Homo sapiens: one gene and its partners. The protein of the gene in region 1 interacts with the protein of each later gene in a biochemical or structural test. Each region holds a gene or a part of one and is shown on either strand. Other genes may lie near its edges. The genes, in order: DEPTOR, TNFAIP3 and RPS6KB1.

Region 1 (6,808 bases):
CCATACTGCCCACAGCAGAGGAAAGGTGATACCTGAAAAGAATATCAAGTCAACTGTAGTGAAATGAAGCTGGATAACCAAAAACCAACAGATGTGTCACCATATGACTTTTAGGACAATTTTTATTAAGTGTGTAAAGTACTTGGATTGGCACTTGAGAAATACTAGGTTTTTCAATATATGACTGAATTGATTGAGAGGTTGCCTGCTATTTTGAAAAGGATCCTGCCTGTGATACTCTGCCTCCTAAACTAAATTGTAAGCTTCGTGAAGGCAAAGATGCTGGTATTTATTAGGTTGGTGCAAAAGTAACTGCAGTTTTTGCAATTAAAAGTTGCAAAACCACAATTGCTTTTGCACCTACCTAATAAATCTTATTTAAGTTCTCCACACACTAGTTGGTACAAGATGTCATGGGCTTTTTCTCCAGAACACCTGTGACAGAGGGTCTTCACCTGATCCTCTATACCCCTAGAGATGTGCTCAGGTGGCAGCACAAGTAAGAAGGTTTGTGTGAAATGAGCAGTTCACGGTGTGCTTGCTCTGACCCCACTCTTGACTGGCTGCTCTGGACAGCATGTGGGAACGCAAGGGAGTGAGACTGTCTTTATGCCTAGGGTAGCCCTGAATCAGCCTTACTTTATGAAAGAGTGAATTAGTCACAAACTTTGGCATTTGAGAAATGTGTGTGTGCATACACTTAGAAAACAAAAACAAGAAATGACCTTTTTCTGTTTTTCTAATTTTTTTATTTTTTATCTTTTATGTTTTTTAGGCAGGATCTCACTTTGTCACTCAGGCTGGAATGCAGTGGCATGATCTTGGTTCACTGCAGCTTCAACCGCCTGGGTTGAAGCGATACTCTTGCCTCAGTCCCCCAAGTAGCTGGGACTACTGGCGTGTGCCACCACACCTGGCTAATTTTTTATTTTTATTTTTGTAGAAACAGAGTTTCGCCATGTTGCCTAGGCTGGACTTGAACTCCTGAGCTCGAGTGATCCGCCTGCCTTGGCCTCCCAAAGTGCTAGGATTGCAGACGTGAGCCACTGCACGTGCCCGGCCTGTTTTTCTAAAATTAAATTCAGTTGAAGTGACCATCACCAAGGTTGATGACAAGTTCAATGTCAGATCATTTTGGTGTCCCTTGCCTATGTCCTTCCCGTTTGAGATCATGTGCACCATAACCCACCACAGCCCCCATCCCAGGGCTTTTAGGCAGTCCAGTAAAATGAACCCTGACCAGTATTAGTGACTGGTGCCACTGGCCCTTGGCCAGACAGCCCTGCTGACTGCCCTTTTCCTACCCCTGAACACCTGGGTAAAGGTCCTGTGCAGAGTTCACCAGGTGCTCATCCTCCCACACATACAGCCTTGACCATCCTAGCTTCTGAGGCCTCCAAGAGCTCTGCAATCAAGAGGTGCACAGGACCCCATCTTGAACCAAACCAGCCTCTCCCTTCTAGACAGAAGGGAGATCCTTGTAGACCAAGAATCTACCCACTGTTAGCATCAGGGCCCTCTTCCCTTCAATGTTTATTGTTTTGTTTTGTTTCATTACTTAACTAAGAGCTTTATGGAGATATAGTTCACATACCATGCAATTTATCCATGTAAACTGTAGAATTCAGTAGTTTTTAATATATTCACAGATTTATGTCACTATTACAACAATTTTAGAGCATTTTTATCACCCCTAAAAGAAACCCCGTACCCATTACCAACCACTTCCATGCCCCACCCCACCACCCCTGCTCCCAACCCTAAGTAATCAATAATCTACTTGCTGTCTCTGTGGATTTGCCTACTCTGGACATTTCATATAAATGGGCTCTTACACTCTATGGTCTATTCTGACTGGCATCTTTTACTTAGCATAATGTTTTCAGGGCTCACCCATGTTGTAGCATGTTGTATGTTCCATTTTATGGCCGAATAATATTCCACTGTATGGATATACTGAATTATATTTCTCCTTTCATCTGTCTTTTTAAATTTTTTAAATATATAGATATATATATTTTGTAGAGACGGAGTCTCACTATGTTGTCCAGGCTGGCTCAAGCAATCCTTCTGCCTCAGCCTCCCAAAGTGTTAGGATTACAGGCATGTGCCACCACGCCCAACCTCCTTTCATCTGTTGACAAACATTGGGGTCCTTCAGTTCTTGAAGCTTCAAGCCACCCTGTCTTCAACGCTTTTCCCTCTGGTGGCCATAGATCAGGGACCACAAACTCACATGCCTGTCAGCCAGGTGTTAGGAAGATAGGAAGCCGTAAGGACTGTGGCAAATGAGTGTCCATGCCATGTGTAGAACAGGCAGGCTCTACTCAGCCATGGCCACATGGCCATCTACACCTGGTATGATCACAGCTTCTGATTGTCCCAGAGAAGCCAGAGTCTGGGTTTTTATTTATTTATTTATTTTGAGACAGAGTCTTGCTTTGTTGCCCAGGCTAGAGTGCAGTGGCAGAATCTCGGCCCACTGCAACCTCTGCCTCCCAGGTTCAAGCAATTCTCCTGCCCCAGGCTCCTGAGTAGCTGGGATTACAGGTGTGCCACTACACCTGGCTAATTTTTGTATTTTTAGTAGAGATGGGGTTTCACCATGTTGGCCAGGCTGGTCTTGAACTTCTGGCCTCAGGTGATCTGCCCGCTTCGGCCTCCCAAAGTGCTGGGATTACAGATGTGAGCCACTGCACCCAGCCCAGAGTCTGGATTTTTATGCAAAGATTTTCCAAATTTTATTTTATTTTTTACTTTTATTTTTTGAAATGGAGTTTCACTGTTGTTGCCCAGGCTGGAGTGCAATGGTGTGATCTCGGCTCACTACAACCTCCACCTCCCGGGTTCAAGTGATTCTTCTGCCTCAGCTTTCCAAGTAGCTGGGATTACAGGCATCCGCCACCACGCCCAGCTAATTTTTTTGTATTTTTAGTAGAGACGGGGTTTCACCATGTTGACCAGGCTGATCCACCCGCCAGGCTGATCCACCTCAAGTGATCCACCTGCCTCGGCCTCCCAAAGTGCTGGGATTACAGGCATGAGCTACTGTGCCTGGCAGATTTTCTAAATTTTAAATGCTGGTCAATTAAAACAAACATGATGTGTGACAGAGGACACACAATTGTGGTTAAGACTAAATGCTGAGGCCAAGTGTGGTGGCTCACACCTATAATCCCAGCACTTTGGGAGGCCAAGGTGGGAGGATCACCGGAGGTCAAGAGTTCAAGACCAGACTGGCCAACATGGCGAACCCCCTCTCTACCAAAAATACAAAAAATTAGCTGGGCATGGTGGCACACACCTGTAATCCCAGCTACTCGGGAGGCTGAGGTGGGAGGATCGCTTGAGCCTGGGAGATGGAGGAGATCGTGCCACAGCACTCCAGCCTGGGCAACAGAGGGAGACTCCATGTCAAAAAAAAAAAAAAGTAAATGGTGAAATGTGATCCCTGAGCGATGCGGAGACATGGCTAATCTCAGGGAGCCTGCGAAGGGTCAGCTGGAGAGGGCACTCACCTGGCAACTCCTGCCCTCTTATTTGGCAGTGCAAAAAGGCTATTCATCTTTTTGGAAAAAGAAACCCCTGTATCTGTGGAAAAGACAAGGGATTTGAAATTTCCAAGTCTAGGGTCTAAAGCTCTGGGTTGGGAAGGAGGTGAAATTCTTCTCATTCTTTGGCTCATGAGTCTGCTGCAGCAGAAAAAAACAAAGCCCAGGCTGATGCCTGCTAAATTGCAAATTACTGCTAAATTGTCTTGCAAATTACTGTGGCCTAGTTCAGGATAGATTGTGACCTGTTTGTGTGACCTTGATTATGACTGTGACCTCCACCATGGTTGAAAACTGCTGATTTTGTATAAGATGTACCCTGAATCCATGAAGACAAATTTGTGGAACCAAGAAAAGAGAAACAGTAATAGTGTGATCTTATGTGGAGAAAACACCCTAGTAGGTTGGGGAGTGCAAAGTATCAAGGTTTATGACAACAGCGAGTGTTTATTGAGTAAATAAGCAGTCTGTGTACTACTGCCCGCTTTCCATTTTGTTTTGCCTGTGACCGTGAAAGAAGTGGGTATTTTTTGAAAGGAAAGAGATTAATAGTACTCAGCATCGGTGTAGTGCTTGGTGTTTGCAAAGAGGTTTCAAATGCACTATCTAGTGTGAGCCTGTGAGAATAGGCGTTTTTACCTGTTGTACAAGTGAGGCATTTATATCGTTGAAACATAGAAGAGGAGAAATTACTTGATTAATGTATTCCACCAAAGGGACCTATAACTTAAATCTGTATCTTTGATTCTAAGTCCCCTCATCTTTTCCACAGTGACAGAGCTTTCCAATACTCTTCCCAGTACTCTCCAATTTTGTTGTATCTAAGTAATAAGTATAGATATTTTTGGACTTAATATCATGTTTAAGTTTACATCGATATTACCCACACAGAAAACAATAAAAGGAAATGATGGTTCCCAAGGTGTTTTGGTATTTTTTACATTCTTTGGTTGAGTCCTCAACACTAATAATTAATAATTGGGAGCAAGCATGCCTGTGAATTACTGCAAGTAGAAACTATATATGTCATTAATTCTTACAACAGTCTTATAAGGTAGGTATTACTCTTATTATTATTATTAATTCTTATTTTAGGGTTGAGGGAAATAAAGCTCAGAAATTTAAATACCTAGCTAGTATTTAAATACTAGCTAAAGCTAGTATGTCTCTGAGTTAGGATTTAAGCCAAATTTTGTAAAACACTAAAACGATTTTTTTTTTTTTAAATTATACTGCCTTCCAGAAAATGTGTAGCTCCTTGGAAATTATTGAATTGGAGTCGTCAGCTGGATACATTTGGATATTTTAAGAATGAAGTTACCTGTTAGGGCTACACACTGTCTTTATTAAAGCTTTGTGCAAAACCAGGCGCTATAATAGATGCTCTTTCTTTGCATCTTTCCTTTAGGTCTGTCAGTTTGTCGTCTCTGTCAACGGGCTCAATGTCCTGCATGTAGACTACCGGACCGTGAGCAATCTGATTCTGACGGGCCCACGGACGATTGTCATGGAAGTCATGGAGGAGTTAGAGTGCTGAGCTCCTGGGCCTCCCAGCCCTCCAGTGGCCTGTGGGTGAGGGAAGCCAGAATGACACAAAGCAATGCAAAGACAAGATTGCCATGCAAATGGATGGTTTTGGACATACGAGTCTTCTCCGCACATACATGTCTAAAGTTGAGTTTTATACACTGAATGTGGAAGAACCGGGTATCATATCTTTTTTAAAAAATGTCAGTGTAGAAAACATTTGGGAAACCATTTTCCTACATGATAGAACTGCCTTACTAGATTTCTATTTGTAGCTCTCATTCATTGTTTTTTATCTTAGTTTGCAGAAAGGTGTTGAAATGCTTCTCTAGCCCAAACAGCGACATGCTAAAGTCCCCTTCTTCAGAGTCAATAGAGTAGTTGTTAAAGGTTTTAAATTGTACTTTCTCCAAAATTAGCATGCAGCTATTTAATAGGGAATCTAGATTTCACCAAGATTCAAATCAAAGCAACATTTAAAGGAATAAGACCTGTTCACTAGCATTTTCAAGGGGGTTCTAAAGCATTCAAGTGCTTAAAAGCCATAAAAAATGACTTCTTAATTCCTGCCTTTAGTGTCAACTTTTAAGTTAATACAGGTTTCAATTGTGGCATTAGGAAAAAAAAAAACCTTGTGATGCTATGGTTGGGGGTAGTTAGGGAGAGACTACATGAAATTGTGTGCCCCTATTTTCTTTCTGATCCTAAATCATTTTGTTTTATAAATCAGCTATAGCATCTTTCTAGAATTAATCCTGAATATGTTGAATGTTAAAATAGAGAAGTTTGTATATACACATAATTAAAAATCAACCCTTCTGGCAAGATTTCACTTTGAAGGTGTCTGTTTTTAAGGGAAGGCTAAAACTTTGCTGATATGTGATAAAACTTGAACTCTAAATTGCCTCCTTAGCCTGAATTTTTACTAGCTTTCTAGTGTAACATATTCTAAGGACATGACATGCTGCTTATTTGGGGGGATTATTTTTCACCAAAATGATCATCTTGTGTTGTAACTTTTCAGCTCACTTGTATATACGCACGTTTTCATTTTTGGTCTAGAAAATAGTGCATTTTGGGGCTCAGCGTGCAGAGGAAATTCCTCAAAGTGCCAAATTAGGCAGTCAGGAAATACTAAATTCTTCATTCCAAATAATGGATCTGAATGATGACGTTAATTTTTTATCATGCATTAACAAAATAAAATATGAGAATTGTACCACAGCCATTTCTTTTCATTAGGTTATCGTAATGTATAGGTACTGGTGGAATGGACCTACCGTGCTAAATATGTTATAGACATATATATATATATATATATATATATATATATTTCTGGTAATCCAACTTTTCTGATTTGTAGCTTTAGTCAGAGAATAGGATTTTGGAGTGACAGAGAATGTCTAACAGTAATACTGTTGATATACATTTGAGAAATACTATCACCTCTGTGTGGGTGTGCATTTGTACTGTATGGCAGGCTCTGTGCATTTAATATATATGATATCCTTTAACCCTCAATGCAACCTTGCAAGGTAGATATTAACGTCCACATTTTTCAGATGTGGAAACTAAGCCTGAGCAAGTTTTAAAATGGTCTCTAAATTCACACGGCTGCAGGAACTACTAGGTGAAATAGGCTGAATGTAAACACAGGTTTAACGCTAAATCCCATGTTACTCCCCTCAACTTTTCCCCATTTAAGGACCTTATATTGAGGGTTTATTCTG
Region 2 (7,111 bases), on another chromosome or scaffold:
AAGCCAGGCAGACTTGCCTCTGTGTTGGTACCTGGAGGGTGATGATAAAATTTCATTGGCAGTTGAGTTAAAATGATTGAGCTCCAATATCTGTTCTTAGAAGTATAGAATTTATTGTTCTATTATTATTTTGCGGTTTTTCATTTTTTGTTTTCGTAGAGACCTAGGTCTCACCGTGTTGCCCAGGCTAGTCTCAAACTCCTGAGCTTAAGTGATCCTCCTCCCTCGACCTCCCAAAGTGCCAGGATTAAAGGCATGAGCCACCATGCCTAGCCTATTGTTAGTCTGTTTCTTATTCTGATATGAAGTCCGGTGCGGAGGTTCTGAAGGAATGCTGACTGCTCTTAAAATTGCAAAGCATCTTGCTGGAAATGGACTTTTTTATTGATTAGAAAACATTCGGTTTTAACTCTTTATAAACATCAGAATAAACTTCATGATTAAACACTTTATAAATACTTCTCTTTGGGGCTAAAGAGGAAACACCAACCAGCAGCCTAAGTGACAGCATAAAATTGCAAGATTTTTCATAAAGTATTTTACTGTCCTTCCAGCATAGGGAGGGAGTGATAACTCAAGAGTTTGCCCAAGAGCAGGAGTGCTTGGTGGTGGTCTGAGGGGAGGAGCTACAGACTTGTCAGGGCTACTTTGAGCCCTTAACTGGCATCCAGTACTCCCCAAATCCAGTGCTGTTCAGGGTGGCCTCAGAATGAAACGGGAGCTTAAGTTGGTTTTGAGGAGCAGTACCTGTTGCTGACAGACAGGGTTGGCTCCCTGACAAACATTACTGAAAACACGGGTTATTCCCCTCCTCCTCAGTACCCACTCTCTGCCTTCCTTCTCTTGTTTAGGCTAATCTTTTAAAGTGATGTAACTTAAAACAGTCCAGTGTGAGTTAATCTCTGGGGCCAGCTAGTATCCCGGGAGTAGAGGTGCTAAGATCTTTTGCCTACAGATCAGGGTAATGACAAGATCAAACACTGGGGTTTCCTGCAGGCAGCTATAGAGGAGTCGTATTAAAGTCAGGCTAATAGAATGGCTTTTTTTTTTTCCTTTCCTTTTCAGGTGTTGGAGAGCACAATGGCTGAACAAGTCCTTCCTCAGGCTTTGTATTTGAGCAATATGCGGAAAGCTGTGAAGATACGGGAGAGAACTCCAGAAGACATTTTTAAACCTACTAATGGGATCATTCATCATTTTAAAACCATGCACCGATACACACTGGAAATGTTCAGAACTTGCCAGTTTTGTCCTCAGTTTCGGGAGATCATCCACAAAGCCCTCATCGACAGAAACATCCAGGCCACCCTGGAAAGCCAGAAGAAACTCAACTGGTGTCGAGAAGTCCGGAAGCTTGTGGCGCTGAAAACGAACGGTAAGACTTGTTCTGTTGTGTTTCTTTTGCCTGGGTGATAGCTCCCGCCTGCTGGATCCCCATTCATGAAGCTTTAATAGGACAAGCCCAAACTCAAATCAATCTTGAGATTTAGTATTGAGACCTTTATATAGAATCTCTATTCGGGGTATGTGATAATAGCAGACTTGTTTTGTGAATCTATTTATTAAGGATATTTTCTGATTGTGTATATTGCAGAGCACATTGAGGCTTGGAGAATGCATTTGTAAACACCATACCTCCATTAGGTGATTTCTTTCTAATTCTTGCAAATGTCTAATCATCTGTAAAATACCCTTCTCTGGCCCGTAATGGAAATGTTAAAAGCCTTTAAGTTCAAAAGGAAAGAATGGTGTGAAAACTGGTAGTACATTTGTTTCCCACTGTCATTAGAAAATGCTTGTGATGTTCTTACACTTCTTGAATTGGTAGCATTTTATGGGTTAACCAGTGAATGGCTGTTGAAGACATGAAGAACTTCTTTTGTCTCCTCCTCCTCTCTGACCTAGGTTCTATTGCCTATGCCCTGCAAGGTGAAATAGACAGATAGCTGAGATTTTTAGCATGAATTTTAGACTTCACCTTCATTATTTTTAGGGGTTCTTAGTCACTGAATTCCTTCCTGTCTGTGCTGTTCTGCCAATGGCCTTTACCACTAGTAGCTATTTCCTATTCCAAGCTTTACTGTTTTGTTTTTTAATCATTTCCCTTGGGTAAGAATATGTGCATCAACAGGAATGTCAGAGCATACTGTTTCATGCAGGCACAAAATTCTGCTCTATGGATGTGCATAATTATGACAATAAGGAAGTTGACTGTACAAGCTCAATTAAATGCTCATAGTCTACATAAGAGCAGGAATCTCAGGTCCTTATATCTGTGACAGTCCCAAACCATCCTAATAGAAATAATATGTCCAAGGGCAGAAAATCCTTGTTGACAAGGATTACGATAAGAACACTAACTTAATTAACTTCATTCAAAAGCCAAGTACATTAACTTTGGCTTTTTTTGACTTGGGTAACTTAGAGTGATTGGTGGACATGGGTTTTTAAATTTTGATTCTGGGGGCTCTTGTACATTACCCCAACGTCTTGCCTAGATTTATGAAACACTGATTCTTAGAAACATAGATAGAAAGAAAACTGGGGATAGCTACTATCTGCATTGTTCTTGGCATTAAATTAAGTGATACTTAGAGGTAGGTAATTATGTGAAGTCATCATCACGGGGTTTATGTGCCTGACAATTTGTGGTTTTAATCATCTCCCATTTGTTACCAAAAAGAGATGGAGTCAACTTTGGGGGAGTTGGAAACAAAGATTCTGCTGAATTAAAAATGTGGTAGAAAGAGGAACACCTTATTAAGAGAATTAACTGACTTTTAGCTTTATTTCCTTAAGAAAGGAAATGCTCTATTTCCACTAGAAAAAAAAAAGGAATATAAATAGGAAACACTTATTTTGTAAACATGTCATTTAAATCAACAAGGAGCCACACTACAAATAAAACTACAAAAGCAGGTGCATTTTGGTAACATTTTCTGGGAAATCATTTTTAGACTCAGAGTCCTTTTGTTTCTTCACTTTCAAGAAAACTCCTTAAGATTCTAAAAAAGGAAGAAAAGATATTTAGGGAGGGAGGAAAACAAATGACTTTTTCTTTGATTTTAATTAGCACCTTTTAAAAAAAAATTAATCCTTCCCCTGATAGGAGGGTTCTTCAAAGGCAATATCTGTTTGGGGAGGGGGTGATTCACAAGTTTGCATTTGAGGATATGAGACTGCGGTGAATGAGGAAGGGAGTAGGTGGCATAAAATTGAAACTTCATGTGAAAAATTCCAGCGTCTATTGGCTGCAGCGATTTCACTTGTATAATGAGTAGCCCTATTCCAGCTCACCCTGACCACACCCACTTGGAAAGTCCAGGGTGCACTTCGCAGTTTAAATGTCTACACACCAGAACAAAAAGTACAATAGCTGTTGCTCAATTGCTAGTCAAATAACTTAGCACTGGGGAATTCCAGATGTTACTTAGGGAATTTTATACTGGTGCATCTCAATAAAGAACTGAAAGTAAGCACAAGAAGAAAAAAAGCCTTATCTTTGCTCTAGATTTTGCAAAGGGGAAATTTCAACAGAACGCAATCATTGCTACACGTCTGCCAAGACACAAGGCTTGGGCGATCTTTTTTGTTCATTTGTTTGAATACTTAGCTAGTTTTTCTAAATGTATACATTGAAGGAATACTGGCTGTGGAAGTATATTTGAGGGTTTTTTGGTTTCTTTACAGTTTGACTGTAATTACAATTTGATAAAATTTCAAATAGCTCTATTGCCCTACTTATAGAGTAATGTAAGAAACAATGTAACTTTTCATTATAAAAATTATTTTGCACTTGCCAAAGGAGATTAAGGAGTTAACTTTTTTTGTTTTAAACATTCCCCCAAAATATTTATCGTTTGGGGGTTGAAAAAAATGCAGCCCATTGAATTGTGAGTTTTAAACTGGAAAGGTCACAGATTAATGGCATACAATTAAACCTGTTTTTTTGTTTGTTTTTCTTCTCAAAATGTTAGCCCTAAACACTGAATTATTTTCAAATTTAGACACCCAGGTGCTTTTTAACTTTTGTACTTTACAGTTACTAACAAGCAGGTTTGCATAAGGCATTTTTGAGAGCCGGACTAGCAGGCCATAGGTAATTCCGTGTTGTCAATACGACTTTCCACACCAGGAGAGGAAACTCCCAGGGCCCAAAGGCTAAAGTGGAATGGTCAAGTCATTTGCCATTGAGTCATAGCCAGACCATCCCTATCTAGCAAGCCATGCCTGCTTCCTGGTTTGTGCATGTTGCCCTGTGTGCTCCTCCTTAGAACTAGAGAGCAGCAATGCCAGTGCCTTCACCAGCAAATCAAGGGATGGTAGGAAGGGATAGGGCTTTAGAGATCATCACTTACTGCCCTCATTTCACAAGAGGAAAAATGCCCAGTGAACTTAAGGAATTTCCTCCAGGTCACCTAAACTAGTTAGGAGCAGACTTAAGCTAGAACCAAGGTCCCCTGGCTCCTTTGCAGTTGGTGTCATTCATTAAAAAGAAGAATAAAAAGAACTCTTTTTTTCTTAAAGCTGTCATCATCTTGTGAAATATCAGTTTGCCCTTGACTAGGAAATTACATCAAATTAAACCATTCAGTCCCCTAGAATAGCAGTAGGGCTGGTTTATTCTGAAAACCTTTGCTGGGTCTTACATGCAGATAACTTGACTTTCCTTCTCTTCTCCTCCTTTCTGTCCTCAGGTGACGGCAATTGCCTCATGCATGCCACTTCTCAGTACATGTGGGGCGTTCAGGACACAGACTTGGTACTGAGGAAGGCGCTGTTCAGCACGCTCAAGGAAACAGACACACGCAACTTTAAATTCCGCTGGCAACTGGAGTCTCTCAAATCTCAGGAATTTGTTGAAACGGGGCTTTGCTATGATACTCGGGTAGGTTTTTCCCCCTAATTATCTACTAACAGAGCTCCATGGTGGGCATAGGGTACCCCTGGGCGAGTCCCTGCCCTCTGGTAGCATCTGATGGACTAGGTCACATGAATTTGGCTAAGCGAAGCATACTCAATGGAAAACACCAGAAACCTCCAGTGGGACTCACCCAAGGCTTTTGCCCTGCTTTTGGTTAGCAGATTCCCAGCTGTGGATCCGTTCCTGTAGCAGCGAGTCTTTTGATCATGGCCTTTTCCACTGGTGTTTTGTTGTTTTTCAGTTTGATTGCCCTTAGCTTTGCTGAGCCAGCCAGTAAGATTAAGACACGTGCCTCACCATCCTCAGTCACAAGTTTGGAATTTTTGTGAACATTTGGATAAGGGGCTGCAATATGATACCTCATCAGGGATTTTTTTTTAAAGCAGGTGCTGTCCCCGTCCTCCCCAACTTTTGAGTTTGCCTTGTAGTGGAAAAAAGTAAAGGAAGAAAACCGAAATGGGGAAAAAAGGGTGATCATTTGAATGATGGTTTCATGAAAGGGGAAAAAATAAGCTGAGTTATATAAATGAATAATTGTAGAGTGATGTCAGAATGACTTTTTAGTACAGGGAGTACAGGATACATTCAAGCTTTTTTTTCACCCCGCTCCCCTTAGAACTGGAATGATGAATGGGACAATCTTATCAAAATGGCTTCCACAGACACACCCATGGCCCGAAGTGGACTTCAGTACAACTCACTGGAAGAAATACACATATTTGTCCTTTGCAACATCCTCAGAAGGCCAATCATTGTCATTTCAGGTGAGATGCCTGCAGATCACGGATCTGTACTTAAATGCTTTCAGCCTTATGCCTTGGCTCCTGGAGAAAACCACACTGCCAAAGTTCAGGTAACAGAGTTCAATGGAATTTGATGAAAGTCACCTAAGGGCCTCATTTTCCTTTCTCTTTCTTTGAACAGACAAAATGCTAAGAAGTTTGGAATCAGGTTCCAATTTCGCCCCTTTGAAAGTGGGTGGAATTTACTTGCCTCTCCACTGGCCTGCCCAGGAATGCTACAGATACCCCATTGTTCTCGGCTATGACAGCCATCATTTTGTACCCTTGGTGACCCTGAAGGACAGTGGGCCTGGTGAGAAAACTGCATTAATTCACATCTATAACTAGACACTGAAACATCAGGGTTTTCCTTTTTGCTTCTTATTAAAACAGTCTTATTTAAGTATATTATTTTTATTTAAATATATTGTTCTGTGACTTGCTTGGTTAGTAAGAGTAATGCAGTAGCAGTAATCATAATACCCTCATATCTTTTTGAATATGACTTGGAAAGTACTTTCATACATGATAAATTAAGGCGCACAGTGCTCTTAATACAGTGCCTGGTATGGAGCAAGTAAACGCCTGTCAGGTTAGTTTTTTTCTTTTTGAGACAGGGTTTCCCTCCATTGTCCAGGCTGGAGTGCAGTGGCACAATCATGGCTCATTGCAGCCTCCACCCCCTGGGCTCAAGCAGTCTCTCGCTTTGGCCTCTCAAATTTACAGGCACGAGCCACCATGCCTGGCCTGTTAGCTGTTATTTTAATAGCCTCATGTGGAATAAGCACTGTGCTTTGGAAATATTATTTTACTGCATTTTTATCCTTTTAGCACTCTTGTGAGATGTAGGCCTTGGTAGCCTTATTTTACATATTAGACAGTTAAAGCTCAGAGAGGTCAACTAACCTGCCTAATGCCACACAGCTTGATAGTGACAAAGCCAGGATTCAAACTCAGGTCAGTCTGATTCTAAAGCCTGGGACTTTAACCAATAAGATCCACCACCTCCAGGCTGGTTAATGTTATGTGAGTTTCCTGGAAACAGTGCATTTTTATATTAGATTGTAGCACATTTTGTTTTCCCATTTGGGTTTAACTGTGGCTAAGAATACTTTTCTATTCTGTAAGTTATATCTTTTATACATTTTCAAAATGAGATCTACTTACCTATGGCCTTGTTTAGTAGAATACTGTTTTACTTATGTATTATTTTTTTCCTTAGAAATCCGAGCTGTTCCACTTGTTAACAGAGACCGGGGAAGATTTGAAGACTTAAAAGTTCACTTTTTGACAGATCCTGAAAATGAGATGAAGGAGAAGCTCTTAAAAGAGTACTTAATGGTGATAGAAATCCCCGTCCAAGGCTGGGACCATGGCACAACTCATCTCATCAATGCCGCAAAGT
Region 3 (7,089 bases), on another chromosome or scaffold:
GAATAACTGGGATTACAGGTATGTGCCACCATGTCCGGCTAATTTTTGTATTTTTAGTCGAGACGGGGTTTTACCCTGTTGGCCAGGCTGGTCTCTAACTCCTGACCTCAAGTGATCTGCCTGCCTTGGCCTCCCAAAGTGCTGGGATTATAGGCGTGAGCCACTGCGCCCTGCTGGAAAGAGTTTTTATACGTTACTGTTATCAAACGCAGTAGAGGAGTAAAGTGAATTAAGAAAAGAAAGAGAGGCTGGGCACAGTGGCTCACGCCTGTAATCCCAGCACTTTGGGAAGCTGAGGTGGGCAGATCATTTGAGGTCAGGAGTTCGAGACCAGCCTGACCAACATGGTAAAACCCCATCTCTACTAAAAATACAAAAAAATTAGTTGGGCGTGGTGGCGCATGCCTGTAGTCCCAGCTACTCATGAGGCTGAGGCAGGAGAATTGCTTCAACCTGGTAGTCGGAGGTTGCAGTGAGCCAAGATCGCACCACTGCACTCCAGTCTGGGTGACAGAGCTAGACTCTGTCTCAAAAAAAAAAAAAAAAAAAGAAAAAGAAAAAGAAAGAGAGCCTGTAATCCCATCACTTTGGGAGGCCAAGGCAGGCGGATCACTTGAGATCAGGCATTCGAGACCAGCCTGGCCAACATGGCAAAACCCTGTCTCTACTAAAAATACAAAAATTAGCCAGACATGGTCGTGGGCACCTGTAATTCCAGCTACTTGGGAGGCTGAGGCAGGAGAATTGCTTGAACACGGGAGGTGGAGGTTACAGTGAGCCAAGATCACATCACTGCACTTCAGCCCGGGTGACAGAGCGAGACTCTCTCAAAAAAAAAAAAAAAAAAAAGAGAGACAGAGAAAAGAAAGAGCCAGGCATGGTGGCATGCACCTGCAGTCCCAGCTACTCAGGAGACCTGTGAATAGCCACCGCACTCCAGCTTGGGCAACATAGTGTAGTAAGAACCTGTCTCTACAAGAAAAAGAAAAAAAGAAAAGAAAAACAGTAGTTGGATCTGGTGATTCGGAGGTCACTGGAAACTTTTCTTAGAGCAGCTTCAATGATGCTATGTGGGGCAGAAGCAGGATCATAGGTGGTTAAGCAGGGTCCTTTTATTTTTTTTGGAGATGGAGTCTCGCTCTGTCACCAGGCTGGAGGGCAGTGGTGCGGTCTCGGCTCACTGCAACCTCTGCCTCCTGGGTTCAAGTGATTCTCCTGCCTCAGCCTCCCGAGTAGCTGGGATTACAGGCACATGCCACCACGCCCAGCTAATTTTTGTATTTTTAGTAGAGATGGGGTTTCACCATGTTGGTCAGGCTGGTCTTGAACTCCTGACCTTGTGATCCACTCGCCTCGGCCTCTCAAAGTGCTGGGATTACAGGCGTGAGCCACCACGCCCAGCCAGCAGGGTCCTCTTTTGAGAATCTTAGATGAAAGGCAAAGAGATAAGAAGAAGAAAGCCAGTCAATAGATGAGTTTTGTTTGGTTGGTTTTAAATTGGTGAGATCTGAGCATGCAGAAGGGAAAATGCCACTGGAAAAGCAAAGATTATTAACATAGAAATGAAAAGCAAAAACAAAGTAATTCCCTAGTGAGATGGGAAGGAATGGGGTTTAAAAACCATGTGGAAGGCCTGGCTTTGAAGGGGTTGGTTAGATCAGAGTAAAGGAGAGGACTGTGGGCCACACCTACCTCCATTCTCCTCCTCACTGAAGAATCTTTCTTTGCAAGATGCTTGATATGCCTCATTCTCTCTCATAGAGCAGAGTCCCTGGGAACTGTGTGAGTCACTAAGCAAAGCATCAAAAACTTCAAAACCAATCTGATTGCCACACTGACCAAGTTGCACTGTTACAATTGACATGCTGAGCCACAAACTAGGTGTATTACCTCTAAAAACAACCTGTAATCGAAAAAAATACGCTTTGAGAACCACTACATTACTAATAAGAACAAATAAAATGCCATGTATGTTAATTATACATCAATAAAAAGTCTTTTTTCCCCCCTGAGACGGAGTCTTGTTCTGTCACCCAGGCTAGAGTGCAGTGGCATGTTCTCGGCTTAATGCAACCTCCGCCTCCCAGGTTCAAGCGATTCTCCTGCCTCAGCCTCCCGAGTAGCTGGGATTACAGGCACGTGCCACCACGCCTGGCTAATTTTTGTATTCTTAGTAGAGATGGGGTTTCACCATGTTGGCCAGGTTGGTCTTGAACTCTTGACCTCGTGATCCACCTCCACCTACCTCAGCCTCCCAAAGTGCTGGGATTACAGGCTTGAGCCACCACGCCCGGCCCAAAAAGTCATTTTAAAATGCCACATACGTATATAATATTGGAGATAGAACAGCTGTGTTGTCTAAGGAGCTAGTCATTCAAGGAAGTTCTCATACTCTCTACATGGTTTTGGGATTTGTGATTTACTGTACCTGAATCCATTCATACACAGCTCAATAGTTTCCAAAATCTGATTTGTAATCACTTTTTTCCTAAACATATGTTTAAAACAAAACATTCTCCTCAGTTGAGGAGTGATAAAAGAAAAAAAGAGGCTGGGTGCGTGGCTCACACCTGTAATCCCAGCATTTTGGGAGGCTGAGTTGGGAGAATCACGTGAGCCTGGCTGTTCCAGACCTGGTCAACATGGCAAAACCCTGTTTGTACAAAAAATACAACCATTAGCTTGGCGTGGTGGTGTGCGCCTGCAGTCCCAGCTACTCGGGAGGCTGAGGTGGGAGGATCCCCTGAGCCTGGGAGGTCCAGGCTGCAGTGAGCCAAGATCTTGCCACCGCACTCCAGCCTGGGTGACAAAGTGACATCCTCCTGTCTCCAGAAAAAAAAAAAATTAAAATTAAAAAAATAAAAACAAGACAAAACAAATGCTGATTGAAGAAATTAGTAGTACCACCCTTCACACCACATGAACATGTAGAACACAGAAGTGTGCTCAACATTGTACATTCAATTAACATTAATTTTCTCTCTTCTAAATAATAGCTTACGCTTTCTCCACTAGTCTAGCCTGGTAACTTTAGTAAGACCTGTAAGAAAGATTTTGTGTTTAGCTCAGGTAGGACAGCAAGAAAGATGCAGCTTGGAGAAAGAAAACCAGATGAAATATTAACCGGGCGCAATGGCTCATGCCTGTAATCCCAGTACTTTGGGAGGCCGAGGCGGGAGGATCACCTGAGCCCAGGGATTCCAGACCAGCCTGGGCAACACAGCGAGACCCTGTCTCCATTTGAAAAAGAAAGAAAGCAAAAGAAACATTAGAGCAGTTCCTCATTATTTTTACCTAGGAAAAGACAAGTTTTGATAAAGACTTCACATCAGGTCTATGCAGCACTGGAAATGAGCCGTGGGTTGTGAGACAGACTCTGTGCTTAAAATGTCAAACCGGCAAAGTAGGTTTATTATTATCCTCATTTTACAGATAAGGAAACTGAGGCTCTGAAAGGTTATTGACTTTTCCAAGGCCACAGAACTAGTAAAGAGCAAAGCCAAAAGGTCCCCCGTTCCCCACGGGCCCCAGGAGTTCTCCACACGTAACCCGACTCACCGCCAGACGCCGACCAGCGCTTCTGTCCGGTTCAAACTTCGGACCAACCTACTCACCATGCGCATGCTCACTTTCAAAACGAAAAACTTACTGAGAACAAATGCGCATGTTCCATAAACGGAGAGTTTTGTTGTGTATATATTTTTTCCTATTCAGAAAGATTAATTACGCATGTTCAATTTCAATTTACGAACTTCAGATATGGTACGCATGCTCACTGTCCACCGAACGCTCCAGCTGACAATGCGCATGCTCTAGTCCTCCAAGCGCGACTTCGGCTGGTGTTTTGCGCATGTTTCTGCCAGCGCCTGGATCCTGCCGATAGTTCTGCGCATGTCCACTGCCCACTGTTTGGCTTCACGGAACCCTGTACGCATGCTCCTACGCTGAACTTTAGGAGCCAGTCTAAGGCCTAGGCGCAGACGCACTGAGCCTAAGCAGCCGGTGATGGCGGCAGCGGCTGTGGTGGCTGCGGCGGGTCCGGGCCCATGAGGCGACGAAGGAGGCGGGACGGCTTTTACCCAGCCCCGGACTTCCGAGACAGGGAAGCTGAGGACATGGCAGGAGTGTTTGACATAGACCTGGACCAGCCAGAGGACGCGGGCTCTGAGGATGAGCTGGAGGAGGGGGTGAGGCCCGGGGTCCCCGGGGGCCCGAGGTGACAGGGCCGGGGCGGCGGCGCGGGCTCAGGAAGCGCGGTGTGTCCTAGAGCGTGGAGACCCAGGGGGGCTCCTGAGGAGCTGAGGGTCGCGCGGCCTGAGACAGGGGAGCGGGCGGGGCGGTCATGGCCCTAGGTGTGAGGCCTCTGCGGGGCTCGCAGGTGCAGGTCGCACCCTTAGCCCCAGGTCAGCGCAGCCCCGAGCGATCTGAAGAGGGAAAGAGAACGGGCGCGTGGTCGATTCCTCGAGCTGTTGGACTTGAGTGTGGCGGGGAGCGGGTGGCGTGAGCGTGTGTTGGGGAGACGGGGGCTGCTCTTGCTGGGTGTCCCGTAAGTGCAGGCGAAGTGTGGAGGGTTTCCCTTCGAGTCTAGAATTTCAAGTATTGAATCTTCAGACCTCCCACAACCACCTCTCTTCTCGGCCTGTCGCTTCTCTCCTAGGAAGCGCTCAGCTGTTAGAAGTGACAGCTGAAAACTTCTGTCGGGAGTAGCACTGCCGCTGCTGTTACAGCCACCAGGAGTTTTATTTCGGGAGCAAGGGGGCTCTGCTGCATCTTCCAATCTTCCAGGGTTTGTTTGTTTGCTTTTTTTTTTTTACCCCCTTCCGTGTGACTTTTTAAAATAAGCATTTATAAGGACACACGGCACTTGTAACCTTTCCCCAAGTTGAAGATGTCTGTATTTTTTTCAGAATAATTAATGTAATTTTGAGGTGGAAAAAAAAACCAAAAACCAGTTGACAGCCTTGATTTAGCTTGCCAGAAATAAGTTGCCTGAACAGAGACTTGTGAATGGTGGTATGAGGGCTTTCCTTGCTGTAATTTAGGGTGCTAAATTTAGAATTGTATTTCCTAATGCATAGCTTGGTTTCACCCTGCTGGCTTAGTGGTTTGTTAATCTTTATGGAATAACTTTTTTTTTCCCTAGATAAATTTATCAAAAAATGACAAATTGCACCTGAAGTTCAAAAATGTTGTCATACTAAATCACTGATCCTGGACCAAATGATCATCAGTTGATAACCTCTTGGTAGTTTAGCATCTAAATTCCAATGTCTAGTTGAATACATGGGTTAATGACGTCAGATGTTTGCTCTAATTACACAGGGGCTTCCTTTCCCTTGCCTCACCCTCAGTTTTTCTCCTCTGGCACCTGCCCTACTGTTGACAAAAGATTGAGATGATGTATATAAAGAATTTTGAACACTTTAAGAAACTAAGTGGCCTAAAATAATACTGTTCTTCTTGTTTGTTTCTTTTGTTTTGTTTTGAGTTGGGTCTCACTCTATCACCCAGACTGGAGTGCAATGGTGCGATCTCAGCTCACTGCAATCTCAGCCTCCTGGGTTTAAGCGATTGTCATGGCTCAGCCTCCCAAGTAGCTAGGATTACAGGCATGCGCCACCACATCTGGCTAATTTTTGTATTTTTAGTAGAGACAGGGTTTCACCATATTGGCCAGGCTGTTCTCGGACTCCTGACCTCAAATGATCCACCAGCCTCGGCCTCCCAAAATGCTGGGATTATAGGCATAAACCACCATACCTGACCAATACTGTTCTTTTCATAATCAAATAAGACTAAATCAAAATCACACGGTTTAGAAAGTGGGTATTGAGTTGTGTGCTTTTTCTTTTCTTTTCTTTTCTTTTCTTTCTTTCTGGTTTTTTTGTTTTGTTTTGTTTTTGAGACAGTCTTGCTCTGTCACCCAGGCTGGAATGCAGTGGCGTGATCTCAGCTCACTGCAACCTCTGCCTCCTGGGTTCAAGCGATTCTCCTGCCTCAGCCTCCTGAGTAGCTGGGACTACAGGCGCGTGCCACCACACCTGGCTAATTTTTTGTATTTTTAGTAGAGATGGAGTTTCACTGTGTTAGCCAGGATGGTCACGATCTCTTGACCTCGTAATCTGCCCGCCTCGGCCTCCCAAAGTGCTAGGATTACAGGTGTGAGCCACTGCGCCTGGCTTTTTTTTTTTTTTTTTTTTTGAGACAGGGTCTTCCTCTGTCACCCAGGCTGGAGTGCAGTGGTGCGATCTCGGCTCACTGCAGCCTCTGCCTCCCAGGTTCAAGCGATTCTCCTACCTCAGCCTCCCAAGTAGCTGGGATTACAGGGGCGCGCCACATCACCTGGCTACTTTTTTTGTATTTTAGTAGAGATGGGGTTTCACCATGTGGCCCAGGCTGGTCTTGAACATCTGACCTCAGGTGATCACCTGCCTCAGTCTCCCAAAGTGCTGGGATTACAGGTGTGAGCCACCCCACCAGGCTTTTTACTTTATTTTATTTTAATTTTTTTTGAGATGGAGTCTCACTGTGTAGCCCAAGCTGGAATGCAGTGGCCTGATCTCGGCTCACTGCAGCCTCCGCCTCCTGAGCTCAAGCGATTCTCGTGCCTCAGCCTTCCGAGTAGCTGGGACTACAGGCGCGCACCACCATGCCTGGCTAATTGTTTGTATTTTAGTAGAGATGGGGTTTCACCATGTTGCCCAGGGTGGGCCTGAACTCCTGAGCTCCAGCAATCTGCCAGCCTTGGCCTCTCAAAGTGCTGGGATTACAGGCGTGAGCCACTGCATCCGGTTGGTGTGTGCTTTTTCAATGATGTTTTCATGCAGAATTCCAATTAGCCTCTTAATCGAACATAATGGTACACTAGTTACAATTGGAAACAAATATGAGATTACTTTCATTATTTATACCATATACCATACTCTTTATCAGTTATGTTGGTTCTCTATGACAGTGGCTTTGGAGCAGGGCAGGGGAGAAAACTGGATAGGAAGGTGCTTTATATCTTCATTAGTTGAACTGATAGAATTTCCAGACTGGGTTTATTTTATTTTATTTTTTTTTCTTTTCTGAGACAGAGTCTTGCTC

What was found.
Region 2: the proteins of DEPTOR (region 1) and TNFAIP3 form a complex in vitro, tested with the Homo sapiens proteins (one study listed by BioGRID).
Region 3: of the proteins of DEPTOR (region 1) and RPS6KB1, one has a biochemical effect on the other in vitro, tested with the Homo sapiens proteins (one study listed by BioGRID).

The regions. Positions count from the first base shown.
Region 1 is NC_000008.11:120,044,617-120,051,424, forward strand, and holds the end of DEPTOR (DEP domain-containing mTOR-interacting protein), read left to right. Parts: intron 1-4,959; coding exon 4,960-5,088; 3' UTR 5,089-6,302; downstream 6,303-6,808. UniProt on the Homo sapiens protein: Negative regulator of the mTORC1 and mTORC2 complexes: inhibits the protein kinase activity of MTOR, thereby inactivating both complexes. DEPTOR inhibits mTORC1 and mTORC2 to induce autophagy.
Region 2 is NC_000006.12:137,870,148-137,877,258, forward strand, and holds part of TNFAIP3 (tumor necrosis factor alpha-induced protein 3), read left to right. Parts: intron 1-685; exon of another isoform or gene 686-765; intron 766-887; exon of another isoform or gene 888-1,035; coding exon of another isoform or gene 1,036-1,080; coding exon 1,081-1,375; intron 1,376-4,697; coding exon 4,698-4,888; intron 4,889-5,540; coding exon 5,541-5,688; intron 5,689-5,848; coding exon 5,849-6,019; intron 6,020-6,928; coding exon 6,929-7,109; intron 7,110-7,111. UniProt on the Homo sapiens protein: Ubiquitin-editing enzyme that contains both ubiquitin ligase and deubiquitinase activities.
Region 3 is NC_000017.11:59,889,139-59,896,227, forward strand, and holds the start of RPS6KB1 (ribosomal protein S6 kinase beta-1), read left to right. Parts: upstream 1-3,982; 5' UTR 3,983-4,046; coding exon 4,047-4,187; exon of another isoform or gene 4,188-4,192; intron 4,193-4,657; exon of another isoform or gene 4,658-4,786; intron 4,787-7,089. Other genes in the region: TUBD1 (tubulin delta chain), read right to left, coding at 1,693-1,864. UniProt on the Homo sapiens protein: Serine/threonine-protein kinase that acts downstream of mTOR signaling in response to growth factors and nutrients to promote cell proliferation, cell growth and cell cycle progression.